2 separate regions of the Homo sapiens genome follow, and region 2 is linked to region 1. Evidence: fine-mapped expression QTL. Tissue or cell type: whole blood. Region 1 holds a variant in brackets; the other region holds the start of a gene. All regions are shown on one strand. Distances are between the middles of the regions.

Evidence for each region. PIP is the estimated chance that this variant, and not a neighbour inherited with it, causes the effect.
Region 2: NPAT starts here. The variant in region 1 is fine-mapped to the expression of NPAT in whole blood (TOPMed, PIP 0.94).

Annotation. Positions count from the first base shown.
Region 1 is chr11:108,336,245-108,344,352 of GRCh38, forward strand. It overlaps ATM (ATM serine/threonine kinase), which reads left to right. Exons shown (of 63, transcript NM_000051.4): 57 at 6,978-7,127. It also overlaps a transcript of C11orf65 not described here. Among named protein-coding and RNA genes, the nearest start is that of ATM, 120 kb to the left of the region's middle. RefSeq lists a silencer at 2,685-2,885. The variant T/C (reference allele first, on the strand shown) is at 3,287.
Region 2 is chr11:108,218,996-108,227,103 of GRCh38, forward strand. NPAT (nuclear protein, coactivator of histone transcription) reads right to left here and starts at 3,643. Exons shown (of 18, transcript NM_002519.3): 1 at 3,505-3,643. The coding sequence starts at 3,541. It overlaps ATM (ATM serine/threonine kinase), which reads left to right and starts at 4,072. Exons shown (of 63, transcript NM_000051.4): 1 at 4,072-4,191. RefSeq lists enhancers at 62-563, 3,539-3,598, 4,009-4,168, 4,479-4,558, 4,909-4,958 and 1 more.

The DNA of each region.
Region 1 (8,108 bases):
CAGTGAGCTCAAACTCTGCAGTGAGCCCCAGTCCAGCCTGAGCAACACAGCAAGATCCCGTTTAAAAAAGAAGAAGAAGAAGAAGATGCCATTATTTGGACCAGGAGTCTACAAATGTTTTCTGTGAAGGACCAAATAATAAAGATTTATTTTCTTTGTAAAAAGTATTTATTAATGTTAATTATAGTTAGGTGTTTCTTATAGTCAACTGAAGTATTTTTTCCTTTTTTTTCTACTCAACAATATGTCACAGAAATCTTTCTCATTTTTTAACAGCTGCATTGTGTGTATGTATGTAGTTTTTTATACAAGTCCTTATCGATGGGCATTTGTGTTGTTTTCAGTCTTTTGCTGCTACAAACAACGCTGTATTGTAGTGAATAACCTTGAACATACAAATTTCATACATGCGCAGGCAAATTTGTAGCATGGATTTCCAAAAGTTGGATTGCTGGGTTAGAGGATACATGCATCTGTAATCTGGTACATATTGCCAAATTACTCTCAATGGGAGTGTACCCACTTACATTTCCTCTAGCTATTTGCCTGAGAAGACAATCCTCAGTCACATTCTATGAGCTGATCATCTTTGACTCTTATATTAATTATTCATTTAACCAGTTTAGAAATAACAATAAATCCTTATTTTGAAGGGCCTATTTTCCATAGGTTTGTCTTTTGTGATTTCATTCCTGTACCTCATTTTTAAACTTTCTCCTTCTATAAATGTTGTAACAGGGACTATGGGTGACATGTGCTTTTTTATATATTTCTAGTTTTCCACTATGAACGTGTTTTATTTTTAAAATAATGGCTAAATTAAAAGCCCTAAATAGGGGAGTGAAGAAGAATAAATTAGATCTACCCTCCAAAATGCTGCTTGAGTTAGGCTATTGTAATAAAAAGCAGAACTTGGTTTTGAGCTTCTTAACTGCTTTCAGAGACTAAATATAAAACTTATTGGTTGGGAGAGGGGCATACTGTTCATTAAGGAAAGCACAATTTTTTCCGTAGCCTTCAAGTTTGTGAGAAATTTGTGACATGGAACCTTCTGCAATAATAACTAACATAATAGATGTTTTCCATTAGCAGTTTAAAAAGCTAATTAATCCTCGATGAATGCAAAAAGCAAAAGTTGCTCTATAAAGGCTACTCTGTAGAGGGATTTCTTTGATGTGGTTAAGATCATTGGTACTCAAGCTTTAGCAGACATCATAGTCACTTAGAGAGTTTGTTAAAAACACAGATTTCTGATCCCCATTCTTAGAATTTCTAATTCAGCAAGATTAGGGTAGAACCTGTGAATGTGCGTTTCTAGCAAGATACCAGTTATGTTGATGCTGCACTGGTCCAGGGACAACACTTTGAGACCCACCAGTCTACTTGTTCTACCATCTATTGACCTGACTTCATTTTAGAACAAAGTTGATGATCTATTAGCTATCTCCTATCTGACAGATAATGTAGAGATTGCTAAGAAGTTTTTAGAGACTAGATATTCTGTAATGTGAATGAAAGGAAATTGTTTATGCTCTAAATACCAAACTTTTAGATGACAAAGATAATAGGTGAAGAATTGGGTTACAAAAGTATGGGCTATAGGAGCACCTCCTGAACTCTCAGAAAGTAGCTAAGATTTCCAAGCAGATACACAATTGAACCTCCAAAGTTCATTGCTGTAAAGCACAAAAAAGCAAATGCCTGACCTAGAATATCTTGAAAGCAGAAATTACTGAACTTTCATCTCTACCTTATGACTTTTTCAACAGCTAGTTTTCACACAAAACTATTTTACCATATAAGTTATTCCATTAAGATTTCTAGCCGGGCATGGTGGCCCACGCCTGTAATCCCAGTACTTCAGGAGGCCGAGGTGGGCGGATCACTTGAGGCCAGGAGTTTGAGACCAGCCTGGCCAACATGGCCAAACCCCATCTCTACTAAAAATACAAAAAAATTAGCCAGGCGTGGTGGCACATGCCTCTAGTCTCAGCTACTTGGGAGGCTGAGGTGAGAGAATCACTTAAACCCGGATGGCAGAGGTTGCAGTTGAGCCGAGATCACACCACTGCACTCCAGCCTGGGTGACAGACCGAGACTTCTTCTCAAAAAAGGAAAAATGTCTAGAGGCCAGATGCAGTGGCTCATGCCTGTAATCTCAGCACTTTGAGAGGCCAAGGCAGGAGGATCACTTGAGGCCAGGAGTTTGAAACCAACCTGGGCAACACAGCAAGACCTCATCTCTACAAAAAATTAAAAATTTAGCCAGGCATGATGGCATGCACCTATAGTCCCAGCTACTCAAGAAGCTAAAGCGTGAGGATTGCTTGAAATCAGGAGTTTGGGGCTGTGCATGAGCTGTGATCATGCCACTGCAGTCCAGTCTGGACAACAGAGCAAGAACTTGTCTTAAAAAAAAAAAAGTGGGGTTGGGGGGTAACCCAGATAATTAATTATTTAATGTTATACATCTCAATATTAAAGTAAAACCTGTAAACACAACAGTTTAGGTTTGACTATTTCTTAGAATTACGACAATAAGCCAGTAATGTTATTTTGAGATTACTCCAAGAATGTGAAAGTTGTGTCATCATTATGTTAAACTAAGTGTTCTTGCCTTTAGTTAAGGTTCCCTAGACTACAGCGAAGTAGTCTACCCAGTCCAGTCATCTGTAGAGTCATTCCCAATCCTGAGATTCAGGTCTTCTGTGGTCATTGTGTCAACAAGAGCATACATTGACTACCTGGAACTAGATCTTGGTATACAAACCTTGTGTCATTGTGCAACCTCAAAAGGAGAGACTTGTATATTGAGGCATGCCAGATATCTCTTGTCAGAGAGAATCAGATGGAAATGAAGACAGTTCTTATTGTGTATGTTGATAGCTCAGACATAGCCCTTAACATTAACCAGAATTAGGGTGGCTGGCCCCATTTTTCTCCACCAAAACTATGCATTGTTACAAAGTATACTGAACAAGTCTAAAATCTTAGGTGTCAGAGGATTTGTTTTCTAAAAGGCAAGTCTCTAATAAACAATATTTAAGTGCTGAAAGGAGCTTTGCACTTAACCTGATCATCCTGCCTTGTGCCAATAAATAATTTTTATTCCTTGTCATGCATATTTCAGAGCATCTATCTCAGTCATGGTTCTGGGGAGAGAAGCCATAATATCTTAAGACATTCACTGAATATAATGAATTAACTTCATTTCTGTGTATCTAGGATGATATCAGCTGTGTACTTTCAGAGAACTGAGAAAATAGTCATCAGTCCTTTTTTGTGG[T/C]ATTCACACAAAATACCCAGATACCCAGTTGAAATCTTCCAGAGAGTCTTTAGTACCAGAGAAAACACTGTCATTTGCTTTTTGAAATTCAAATTCAGCTCTTTCTCCAACAACCAACATCACAGTTGAGACTCTAAGCTGAGGTAGAAAAAAGCCAACCCATTCCTTTCTGTATCAATCTCTCAACAAAAAATAAGGGTTTGATTCCCCCTCCCCGCCCCAGAGCTAGATATTGATAGAGAGTAATCAATGTAAAAGAGACTTTAGACAGAGTACACTACACTGCAAGAATGTTAATGTGATCAAGCATCAGGGGTCACAGCTAACTCAAAGACAGCAGGGGAGAGGGCATGTAGAATACTTATTAGGCAGGAAGGGAAATCAGAAAGGCCATGAGATCATTCATTTGTTTATTCAATAAATGTGAATTTATATACCTACGTTGGGTTAGATACTCTACTGAGTGCTAGGTCTATAGAAGTAGTAAAACATTGCCCTAGTCCTTAAGGTGTTCACATTCTAATAGGGAAAATAAACATAATAAACATAATTATAATGCAAAGTGTATTGTTAGAGATGGTACCACCTTCACTTGGTTGCTCAGACTGAAACCTAGAGGCTTTATTTTCTTTTTACTTTTATTATTATGGAAAATTTCAAACATACAAAAGGAGACAATAACATCATGAACCCCCTTGTACTTGTCACTCAGTTTCAGCAGTTACCAACTCATGGACAATTTTGTTCCATTTCTCTTTCCACCAACTTCCTTCCAATATTATTTTAAAGCAAGATGTCATATCATTTCATCTGTAAACATTTCAGTGTGTAGATCTGTAAGATAATGTCTGTTTTAAAAAACCATTCTCACAATACTGTCATCACTCCTAAAACAATTCACAAAAATTCCTAAATGTCACCAAGTAATGGGAGTCATTTTAAACTCTTGTTTCTCTCTTCTCAAGTCTTGTCTATTCCATCAGCAAGTCCTATTGGTCAACTTCCAGGCAGGTCACTTTACCACCCCTGCTATTACCACCCTACTTCTGCAGTCACATCTCTGTAGATACTAGAGTTTAAACCAACAGTTTACTTCTGCTCTTGGTTTTCCAAAGCTAGTTTTATTAATAACTGTTAGAGTGATCCTTTTAAAATTGTCTAAGACAGAGTACTCTTATTCGGTATCTGTGGGGGATTGTTTCCAGAGCCCCCTGTGGATACTAAAATCAAGTCCCTTATATACAGTGGTGTATGAAGCATTTGCCTATAACCTATGAACCTCCTCCCATGTACTGTAAATCATCTCTGGGTTACTTAAAATACCTTATATAGTGTAAATGCTGTGTAAATAGTTGTACTGTATTGGTTTTTAAAATTTTTATTTTTTATTGTATTGTTTTTATTGAGGTTTTTTTGGTGAATATTTTTGATCCACAGTTGGTTGAATCTGCAGCTGCAGAGGGCCAGCTGTATTCCATTTTCCTGTTCAGAACCCCACATGAGTTCACATTATCCCTGAATGACAATTCTCTAAGTTAAGTGATCTGCCTCTGCTGTTCTCCCTCCAGCCTTATCTACCACTCTCCTCACACTCCTCTCACTTTCTGCTTGTATAGATGAGTCATCTCCACCTGACTTACCTGGTCTTTTGCAATTGCTTAGACACACCAATTTGTTTCTGCCTCAGGGCTTTTCTGCTTCTGCCTGCAATGCTTTTCCCTCAGATCTTCACACCAGTCACTCCCTTACTTCATTCAGGCTTCTGCTGCAGTGTTACCCTCAGAAAGGCCTCCGACCATGTTGCCATTACCCACTTTCTCTCTTTTTTAAACTTAAGTTTTGTTCTCTTATACTTATTATCTAATATTATGAAATGTTTATTAGGATATATGTTCCTCACCAGAATGAAACTTTATGAGGGCATAGTCTTCATCTGCCTTTTTCCCACTCTGTTCTCAGTGCCCTAGCCCTGTGTGTAACATGTAATACGCCCCCAACAAATAAATGTTAATAAATTAATCAAATGCTTCCTTAAGACACAAAACAGTTCAACATATGTGAGAAACTTAAAATTTAAAAATGTATAGAACTAAAGACACCATAAGGACGAGTGACCAGCTGAGAAAACGAATATAATAATGTTAATTAGAACAAAAAGGATCATTTTAATATAAAGAACAAGGGATTTATATGAAGAATACAATGATATTCAACTTTTCTAGTAATCTGGAAAATACAAATTAAAACCACAGTGAAATACTATTACCCTCAGATTAGCAAAATATAAAAAGCCTGACAATATTAAGTATTGCGAAAGTTATGGAATAACTCTACTGGTGGGTATATAAATCGGTACAGTCACTTTGAATAGTTATTTGGCAATATCTGGTTAACCGAGGTGAAGATGTATCTCTGGCTCAGCTGTTAAATTCCTGGGTATATACCCTAGAGCAGACTTGTCCAACCCACAGCCTGCAGGCCACATGCAGCCTACAGGATGGCTTTGAGTGCAGCCCAACACAAATTTGTAAACTTTCTTAACATTATGAGATTTTTTTTGCAGTTTTTTTTTCTTTTTTAGCTCATCAGCAATCATTAGTGTTAGTGTATTTTATGTGTGGCCCAAGGCAATTCTTCCAGTGTGGCCCAGGGAATCCAAAAGATTGGACACCCCTGCCTAGAGAAACTGAAATATGTTCACGAGTAGTTTATTTCATTGCAGCAGTATTTCATGGAAATGTGGAAACAATGTAAATGTTAATATGCAGATTGGATAACTGTTGTATTTATGTAGTATATAGCTGTTAAAATGAATGATGTAGAGTTAAATATGCTCACATAGTTAGGATAAAATAGTATTGAATAAAAAACCAAATTACAGAAATATACATATAGTATCCTAATTTTTTTACTTAATACTTACAACTATTTGTGTACATATAGCTTTGAAATAAAAATATACCAAAAAATACAAGAACATGATAAACCAGCTAACAGTCATCTTGATGGTGGGAGGGACTTAGGGTCAGTGAAGCACACAAGGGGGAGCTTCATCTCTTCCCCAGCAAATGTGAGAAAATCCTAGATTTGATAAAGCTGTTTAATGGATAAAAGGGTATCTGTTAATATCATTTTCTATACTTTATGTATGTTTATAATATAATTTTAAAAAACTTTCCTAGTAAAGTTGCTTATTTTATATTTAGGAGTACATTTTCTCTCTGTGAAGATAATAAGACTAAAGCAAGAGTACATGTAATTTCAATAATGAAGTTACACTAAAATTGAGACCACATTCATGGGTAATAATTTCCAAGTGAAACTCCCCAAATTTAATTGATACTAAAATTTTAAGGAAAGCAGTTAATTCCTCTCCTAACTGGACAAACTAAGTATGGATTAATGACAGATGACGGTGAGTATAGTTAACAGGAGTGACCTCTCAGAGAATCGTGGGGATTGAGTGATGGGCAGGCTCTCAAACATCTAGGCAGCAGGCTGGAAAATTATATTCTTTGAGCTTAAGTTTATTTCCGATTGGTTTCCTCCAAGGAGCTTTGTCTTCTATGGACAGAGAAATATTAATACAACTTGAAAAAAAATGCTTTGCACTGACTCTGATAGCTGAATGATCATCAAATGCTCTTTAATGGCCTTTTAAAATTAAAAGGTATTTAATCTGTAACTCCAGGTGGTTCCCCTCTCTCAGCGAAGTGGTGTTCTTGAATGGTGCACAGGAACTGTCCCCATTGGTGAATTTCTTGTTAACAATGAAGATGGTGCTCATAAAAGATACAGGCCAAATGATTTCAGTGCCTTTCAGTGCCAAAAGAAAATGATGGTGAGTGACACCCAAAATTAAAGGTTATTGTAAGATTATTTAATGGCTTATTAAAGCTGACAGCTGTCAGATATTATAGAATACAAAAAAACTTTAATTTCATCAGGTAATTGTCAAAGATACTAAGTAAAAGAAAAACTCATCAGAATGAAAGTGTGTGAGTGAAAAAGGAAGGATTTTAAACTACATAATATGTCAACCCTTGTCAGATAAGAAATGTAAAGGTTATTCAATGTGTGCTGATTTGTTTTCAATTTGGGATAAACTAATTCTTAGCAAACAAAACACTAAAATGCCAGGCACGATGGCATGCACCTGTAATCCCAGCTACTTGAGAGGCTGAGTCTGGGGGATCCCTTGAACCCAGGATTTTGAGGCCAGCCTGGGCAACAGAGCAAGACCCCATCTCTAAAAAACAAACACAGTAAACAACAACAACAACAAGATTATGAAGTAATTTTTTATGAAACTGATATAGAAAACCTTCTGAGACATTTACAATGTCACATTGGCCATCTAGTCTGATATTCATTCGCTGAATCAGCAACATTTATTGTATGTTTTCTGTCTACCAGGTACTGTGCTGACTTAAGACTTCACAAATATCAAATATTACGACTAATCATCATAATCCTTATCCTCATTTTAAAATGAGAAGTTCAGAGAACTTGCCCAAGGCCAGTGAGCTAATAAACAGAGCAAGGATTTGAGCCTTGTCTAAATCCAAAATCCATTTATTGTTCATTTTATTGTGCTTTCTGTGACATGTTTTTTAAAATGTGTGATAAGTGCTATAGGTGTTGTGATGGAAGTCTGTACAGGGCACACAGGGTACAGTGTAGGTATGGAGGAGGAAGTGCTTAGTTCTGCCTGGGGTGGGGAGAATAGACAGAAGTAGATCCAAGAAATGCTTCACAGAGGAAAAGGTGTGTGAGCCGAGTTTTGTAAATGAGTTGTTTTTCCAGGCAGAAGGAGCATATA
Region 2 (8,108 bases), 120 kb before region 1:
AGAACCAGCAGCTCTTGACCTGTTAGGGGTGTGTCAGTTTTGGTCCTGTTTGACCTCAAACACGTTCTTGACCCTTCTGTCGCTCTCTACTGTATGACATAAAGCTTGACTCTATATAGGCAATGTTCCCCAAGCTCTTCTGTCGGCCTGCTACTGGCTGGGCTCAGTAAATAGGAAGCACTGGTGGGAGGCTGGAGGGCAGGAGGAAGCAGCCATATTTTTCCCCCATTCCCTTTCTGCCTCAGTAGAGTCTCCTCTAAGACTACCACTCCCTCATCAGACAAGTCTTCCACGTTCCGCAGTCAAACCAGCCTCTTGATTGCTTCCTCTCTCCTTATCCTTCTCATTAGCATAGTGGCTTCCTACTGTTGCTAACCACTGAGATGCCTTAGTTGTAAGCTGCTGGGCGTCTTAGCTTTTCTCTCACCAGTGTAAACGAATTCTCTCATTAAATCTTTCCATGTTAAATACTCAGAATGGTTTCTACTTTTTTTACTGCATGCTGTCTCATACAGAAGGTAACAAATCTATTCAAGAAAACCTTCACAGATGATAGTTTTGGGGACTCCCAGAACTCTTGAAGCTTGTCCATTCATCCATGACTAAGACTACTAATAAAACAAAAAACCAAGTAAGTTTCAAATTGGGAAGATGAAAAAGTTCCAGAAACTGATGGTAGTGATGGTTGCAGAAAAATGTCAATATAGTTAACACTACTGATCTGTACATTAAAAACAAACAACAACAACAACAACAACAACAACAAACTCATTGTTTTGGGCTTTAAGAACTATACATTTTTAAGTGTTGAATTTTGTTAGTATATTTTATCAAAAAAAAGTAAACACACATCTACAATGAGACATGATAAGGTTGTAACAGAAGTACAATGCTATGGCAACATTTAAGAAGTACTGACTGTACTTGCTGAATGAAGTTTCAGAGATCAGGCATGACCTGAACCTTGAATAGAAGTGTACTAGGAAGACAAAGAGAAGTAGAATACATACAAGAATTTTCAAAGAAACTTCAATTCGTTTGGCATGTCTGCAGCATAAAACAGATGTTAGGAAGTTGAGATCAAGTTGGAGAGGTAGGTAGGATCAGTTCCACAGAGCACCTTGAATAAATAGATAAAAACTGAACTGATGGCCCAGAGGCAACAAACACTTTGATGTATTCTGGCCCACACAACATTTTGTAAAATCCCAGCAAGGCAATAAGGGCTACTTAAGTGGAGTAGTGAGATGCAAAAGTCAGAGTGCAGTATCCTGAAGGATAAAAGGTAGGTGAAGAACAGCAACTAAGTGGAATTCATTGTTCTTTGAATAAATTTGACTTGTGAAAGGGTGACACAGAACATAAGACAGAATGTTCTGTTTAATGGGTGTCTAATGTCTAGTGGGGTCCAGAAAAGTGTTTTTTTGTGTGTATGTTTAAGAATTTAAAAAAAACCTAATTATCTGAACACTAAGGGGAGAAAACTTAACTTCTCTATGTTCAGCAATTGGCACAGTGTTTGGAACATACTAGGCACCCAAAGATTTGCTAGAAAAAAAACATTATGAAGGGACCAATAACAAGAGGAGCTGAAGATGGCGAGGGGGTACTGATAGGAAAAGAATCATGAGTAAATAATAAACCTCATATGAGAAAGATATACACGATATGTATCTATTTAAGATGTAAAATGATAAACGACAAAAGTAAGAGCATTAGGCATGGGGAGGCTTTTTTGTATTGTATACTCCTGCCCATCTGAAATTTTTAGTAAGAATAGAATTATCTCAACTTTCAGACTAAAAGGTATAGTGTGAAAGCTTCAGGGAGATTTGTAACAACAGTAAATAAAATGAATTGCGAGGACAACTGTCTGGGAAGCCATGACAGAAGTCCAAAAGAGAAGTAATGGCAGGCACATTGCGGGATTGGTGGCAGTGAAAATGGAATGTGAATGACAAAGATTTTTAAGATAAGAAAACCATGGCTGGCGTTTTTTGTCCATTAAATGAAAAGCAGGAAGTCAGCAGAGTAGCTGGTTTGTGGAGAAAGAATACTCACACATCGATGTGAATTATTTCAATTAGAAAATGATACTGCTTTCTTAGGGCTTTCTTAACTAGGGGTGATTCTGCCCTCCAGGGGACATACTAGCAATATCTAGAGACATTTTCACTGATCACAACTGGGTAAGGGTAGGGTGGGGAACGGGTGTCCTACTGTAATCTAGTGAATAGAAGCCAGGAATGCTGCTAAACATCCTACAATGTTTGAGCACAGGATAGCTCCCCACAATAAAGAATTATGAGGCCCAAAATGTTAACAGTACTGAGGCTGAGAAACCATGTTTAAGACTATAGTTACCGAAACTCAACTAGATTACCAAACTGCCAAAACTCAGAATTCTTAAGCAAAAGATTAATCAGACATTAACAAAACATTAAACTTGTCATTAAGTTTCTTCAAAAATGGATGGTGGAACCATTTCCGTTTAACGTTTCCTGCAAAATGTGCTTATCAAGAGCCCTGCGCAAATAACATTTTTGTGGACAGCGCTGGGCATTTAAAAGAGGCACAAGACAAATGGGTTTTCCGAACAATAAAATAATAGTAGTAATGGCTGTGAATACTATGGGAGGTTTCATCACAGATGCTTGCCATTTACTTTTAGGGACGTCGCATACGACGTCCGTAAATTACTGGCTCGGGTTTTGAGCTTTACCTGGCTCTCGTCCCCTGTAGTACAATCCTCTTTATTCTTTCAGGGGACAAACAACAACAAAACCCGTCTCTCACACAGACAATACACCCTGACAGACAAGTGACCCACAAACAATCCCTCCTCAAATGAAGGTAAAACTAGGGCTAGAAAACGTTCAACTAATTTAAGGCAATTAACCCTCTGAAATTTTTCGCTGATCAAAGGAACAGGAATTGCTGTTTTAAAATATGCAACTGGCATTTCACACCTCTACACTGGACGACGTATTGCGTGGAGGATGGAGAAGGAAGATCACCCCTACTCCCAAATTCGTAGTTATAAGGGCGGGTTATTAGAAGGGCGCCAGGAAGGTCTCTCTACAAAGATGGGGGGCCGGGGAACTCCCTATTTGCCCTATTTTGGTCCCAACACTGAACCAAGGAAATTGCGCCCAAGGTTGAAGCACACGCAATCCGTCCGTCATGCAGACAAATGCTCTTTCAGGGGTCCTAATTAAGTGTGGAGGCCTGACTTTCCTTCCGAATCCGCCCCAGGTGTTCCACCCCGAGCTTCCCCTCGGGCTTCCCCTCGCCACGCAGCCTCTGAAGAGAGGAGCATCTACATACAAAGAGGCTTAAACTGCCCAGAACCTCCGAATGACGAAGAATCACCGCCAGTCTCAACTCGTAAGCTGGGAGGCAAAACCCCAAAGCTTCCCTACCAAGGGAAAACCTTTGGCCTCAAAGGTCCTTCTGTCCAGCATAGCCGGGTCCAATAACCCTCCATCCCGCGTCCGCGCTTACCCAATACAAGCCGGGCTACGTCCGAGGGTAACAACATGATCAAAACCACAGCAGGAACCACAATAAGGAACAAGACTCAGGTTAAAGCAAACACAGCGACAGCTCCTGCGCCGCATCTCCTGGTTCCAGTGGCGGCACTGAACTCGCGGCAATTTGTCCCGCCTCTTTCGCTTCACGGCAGCCAATCGCTTCCGCCAGAGAAAGAAAGGCGCCGAAATGAAACCCGCCTCCGTTCGCCTTCGGAACTGTCGTCACTTCCGTCCTCAGACTTGGAGGGGCGGGGATGAGGAGGGCGGGGAGGACGACGAGGGCGAAGAGGGTGGGTGAGAGCCCCGGAGCCCGAGCCGAAGGGCGAGCCGCAAACGCTAAGTCGCTGGCCATTGGTGGACATGGCGCAGGCGCGTTTGCTCCGACGGGCCGAATGTTTTGGGGCAGTGTTTTGAGCGCGGAGACCGCGTGATACTGGATGCGCATGGGCATACCGTGCTCTGCGGCTGCTTGGCGTTGCTTCTTCCTCCAGAAGTGGGCGCTGGGCAGTCACGCAGGGTTTGAACCGGAAGCGGGAGTAGGTAGCTGCGTGGCTAACGGAGAAAAGAAGCCGTGGCCGCGGGAGGAGGCGAGAGGAGTCGGGATCTGCGCTGCAGCCACCGCCGCGGTTGATACTACTTTGACCTTCCGAGTGCAGTGGTAGGGGCGCGGAGGCAACGCAGCGGCTTCTGCGCTGGGAAATTCAGTCGTGTGCGACCCAGTCTGTCCTCTCCCCAGACCGCCAATCTCATGCACCCCTCCAGAGTGGCCCTTGACTCCTCCCTCTCCTCACTCCATCTTTCCTGGCCTCTCTCCGGGTGCTTAGCGGACTTGGCCAATAACCTCCTCCTTTTAAACGCCCTGAATTGAACCCTGCCTCCTGCGCATCCTCTTTTTGTGTCACCTTAGGGTTCAGATTTAACTACGCGACTTGACTAGTCATCTTTTGATCTCTCTCTCGTATTTAGTACTTTTAGTCAGCGAGCATTTATTGATATTTCAACTTCAGCCTCGCGGTTAAGAGCTTGGGCTCTGGAATCATACGGCTGGAATTGGAATTCTGTCAGTCGTGTGGCCGCTCTCTACTGTCTTGTGAAGATAAGTGAGATAATCTTGACCTGTGGTGAGCACTCGTGAGCGTTAGCTGCTGTATTTACCAGGTACAGATAAGACAACTACAGTGGATGATAATGTATGTGGTGATAGGGGAGTACTCTGATGGTAGAGGAGTGACTTTGGTTCTCTGCAAACTCAGCCTGAGACTATCAATTCAGTTTGTGGTGAGACCTCGCAGTGTTACCTTGGCAGATGGTAGAAGCCTTCCAGATGGAAGGAAAAATGCGTGTAAAGGCACAAAGTGTAGAAGGACCCTGAAGCTCCAGCGTGAGGCCTGGCATTGAATGAAATATATTTTGTGGGTTTTCAGCTGCTGAAGTCATAGGAATGGATGAGACCAAGAAAACAAAGCTGTTTTTGAGGTATGAGCGGAAGAAGAGATATCAGGAGACTTTCGAAACAGTCATAACGGAAGTTAATATGATCATTGCTAACATTTGCTGTGTTTCAGGCACTGTAAGCATGTATATGGGTCCTTAAAGGGACTCATAGAGGTAGGTACTAGTATTGTTTTTCCTTTTATCATTGAGAAACTGAGGTTTGAAGAGATTAGTGAACTTGCTCTAGATTATACAGTTTGTAAGTGGCTGAACCAGGATTTGAACTAATACAATCTGACTACAGAGGCCACACTCCTTAGCACTAGAAAAGAATGGCATGCCAAGGGCAGAGTTATTTCTAGGAAGATGGGATATAAGCGTCATTGTCAAGTTGTGCAAAGGGGTCAACTTGGTTGAGATCTAAAAAGGAACACTGAATTCGTCAATTCAGAGGCTCGTAGGAAGTAGGAAATCCTTATCTTTTCGTTTGAACCTTGAGTGGAACCTAGATATTCTGGATTAATGTATAAATGAAGTTCATCTTTATATGGTGACACTCATACTCTAGTTGACTACCTAATAGTTCCTCTGCCTTCTTTCAGTTCCGCCAACATACTGTGTTCTTTAACATTGTAGAACCCTTTGGCTATGCTAGTCTCCTTCCCTGAAGTGTTGGTCCTCTAGCCCTTTTTTTGATTGGCACCAGTTAGTTCAGATCTTGGCTTTATTATAAACTCCTCTGAGATATATGTTCCCTGACAGTTTATCTAAAATGATTCTCTCTACAGTTATTTTCTATTACTGTGTTTTTGTTTCCTCAGAGGCATACATCACAATTTGGAATTATGCATTGGTTTATCAATTTACTTGTTTATTGTCACCCTGCTGCCCAGATATGACTTCATGAGGGTAGGATTTGTATCTGTTTAGTTCATTATTTGTCTAGCTATAAGTAGTAAATATTGTTTGCATCTATCAGTGAATGAGCATCTTCTGTTTATGTAGATAATACTGAACTGTTTTGTTTTCTTCAAAGTAATCATTAAGCTGAAGGTAAGAAAAACAAGTTCAAGGAAGTCACACCATGGGGAAAAAAAAGTCAAGTTTAGGGCTGCCTCTTCCGGGAAGTGTCAAATCTTTAGTATATTTAGGAATAAAGGTGCCAAACCTTATGGTTCTTTGGATATTGCTAAGGTATTTTCATTGGTTAGATTACCAGTTTCATTTTCCTTATTGACTCAAGAGGGCTTTAAACTGAGATTGAAGAAGTAAGAAGATTCCTAGATAAAACCATAAGGAATGGAAAAACAAAAATGATAATACTTGTCCACAGGAAGTATATAATCAAATGAAAAGAACTCAAATAACAATCTGTAATCTATAGCAGAGTAAAGCGGAAGTTGTAATAGTGTTGGGGGATGGGGGAAGTCAGAAGAACCACCAGTGAATATAAAAGGAGAAGAGAATCAGAGCCATCTGCTAATAAAATGGGTAGTCAGCTCTTTTTGTTTTTTTTGTCTTGTTTTGTTTTGAGACAGTCTCGCTCTGTCGCCCATGCTGGAGTGCAATTGCGTGATCTCAGCTAACTGCACTTTCCGCCTCCTGGGTTCAAGTGAGTCTCCTACCTCAGTCTCCCCAGTAGCTAGGATTGCAGGCACATGCTACCACACCTGGTTAATTTTTGTATTTTTAGTAGAGACGGGGTTTCACGATGTTGGCCAGGCTGGCTGGTCTCGAACTCCTGACCTCGTGGAACGCCCACCTCGGCCTCCCAGAGTGCTGGGATTACAGGCATGAGCCACCACGCCTAGCCCCGGTAGTCAGCTCTTACTGAGAATATTCAAAGACAGGGCATTCATTTTGTAAGAGACATTCCTTCCTTCATAGGAAGATTGGACCTGGTCTTTTAGTTCCTCCCAATTTTGAGATTCTGTGAGATTGAATCGGGGCAGAGAAACATACTTAATCTTGAAAGATTAAGTAGAATTTAGATGGATGGATAGGAGAAGGACTTTCCCTACCTTTTTACTTCTTGAGATATAGTTATTTGTAGGTATAATATACATAAATATATGTATTTTTTCTCTGTTTACAGACATTCATAGTTTAATAAAAAACTTCTTTGTATTATATAAAGGTTTAGATCAGAACTAGTAAAACAGAATGCTGTTTCTTTTTTTTTCTTTTCTATTTTACTTTAGGTTCTGTGGGTAGATGTGCGGGTTTGTTACATGGGTAAATTGCATGTTGCTGAGGCTTGGTGTACGAATGATCCTGTCACTCAGGTAGTGAGCATAGTACCTGATAGGTAGCCCTTCAAGCCATACCTCCCTTTCTTTCCAACCCTCAAACAGTCCCCAGTCTCTGTTCTTCCCATCTTTGTGTCCATGTTGAAATGCTGTTCTTACTACATTTTTTTGAAGGACATCAAAAGAGAGTTTGATTATATCAGAAGCCCCCAAAAGAAGAGAGCTACTCAGTGGAATCAAGGCATAGTAAAATATAGTTGATCCTTGATATTTGCAAAGGATACCACCATAGCATAGAATTTGCTTCATTTCCTTTTAAAACAGAAATGTCATTTTACTCCTATTGTTATGTGTTAAATAAGAACCTTAATACCAGTTGAGATGGAAGTGGTAGACAAAGCTTACTAGCTCTGATAACCTCCTACTTATCAGCTCCAAAGCATGTTTTAAGCCTTTGGCTCAGCAAAATGACATGTCTCTCCATATAAGCAAGAGTGCTTTTTTTTTTTTCTTTGAGACGGAGTCTTGCTCTGTCACCAGGCTGGAGTGCAGTGGCGCGATCTCCGCTCACTGCAACCTCTGCCTCCTGGGTTCAAGCGATTCTCCTACCTCAGCCTCCTGAGTAGCTGGGACTACAAGAGCACACTACCACGCCTGGCCAAGAGTGCTTTTAAATAGTTCATTGTCAATGTTAAATCCTTGAGTGCTCATTTCCTTATTTACCTGGCTGTTTTCTATTCATCTTTCATGTCTCAATTTAAATGTCATGTTTCTTTGGTCTCAGAGTAATAAAAAGTAAATATACTTCCCCCATCTCCCGCCCCGCAGAGCCTTCCTCTGTTGCCCAGGCTGGAGTACAGTGGCTCGATCTTGGCTCACTGAAAGCTCTGCC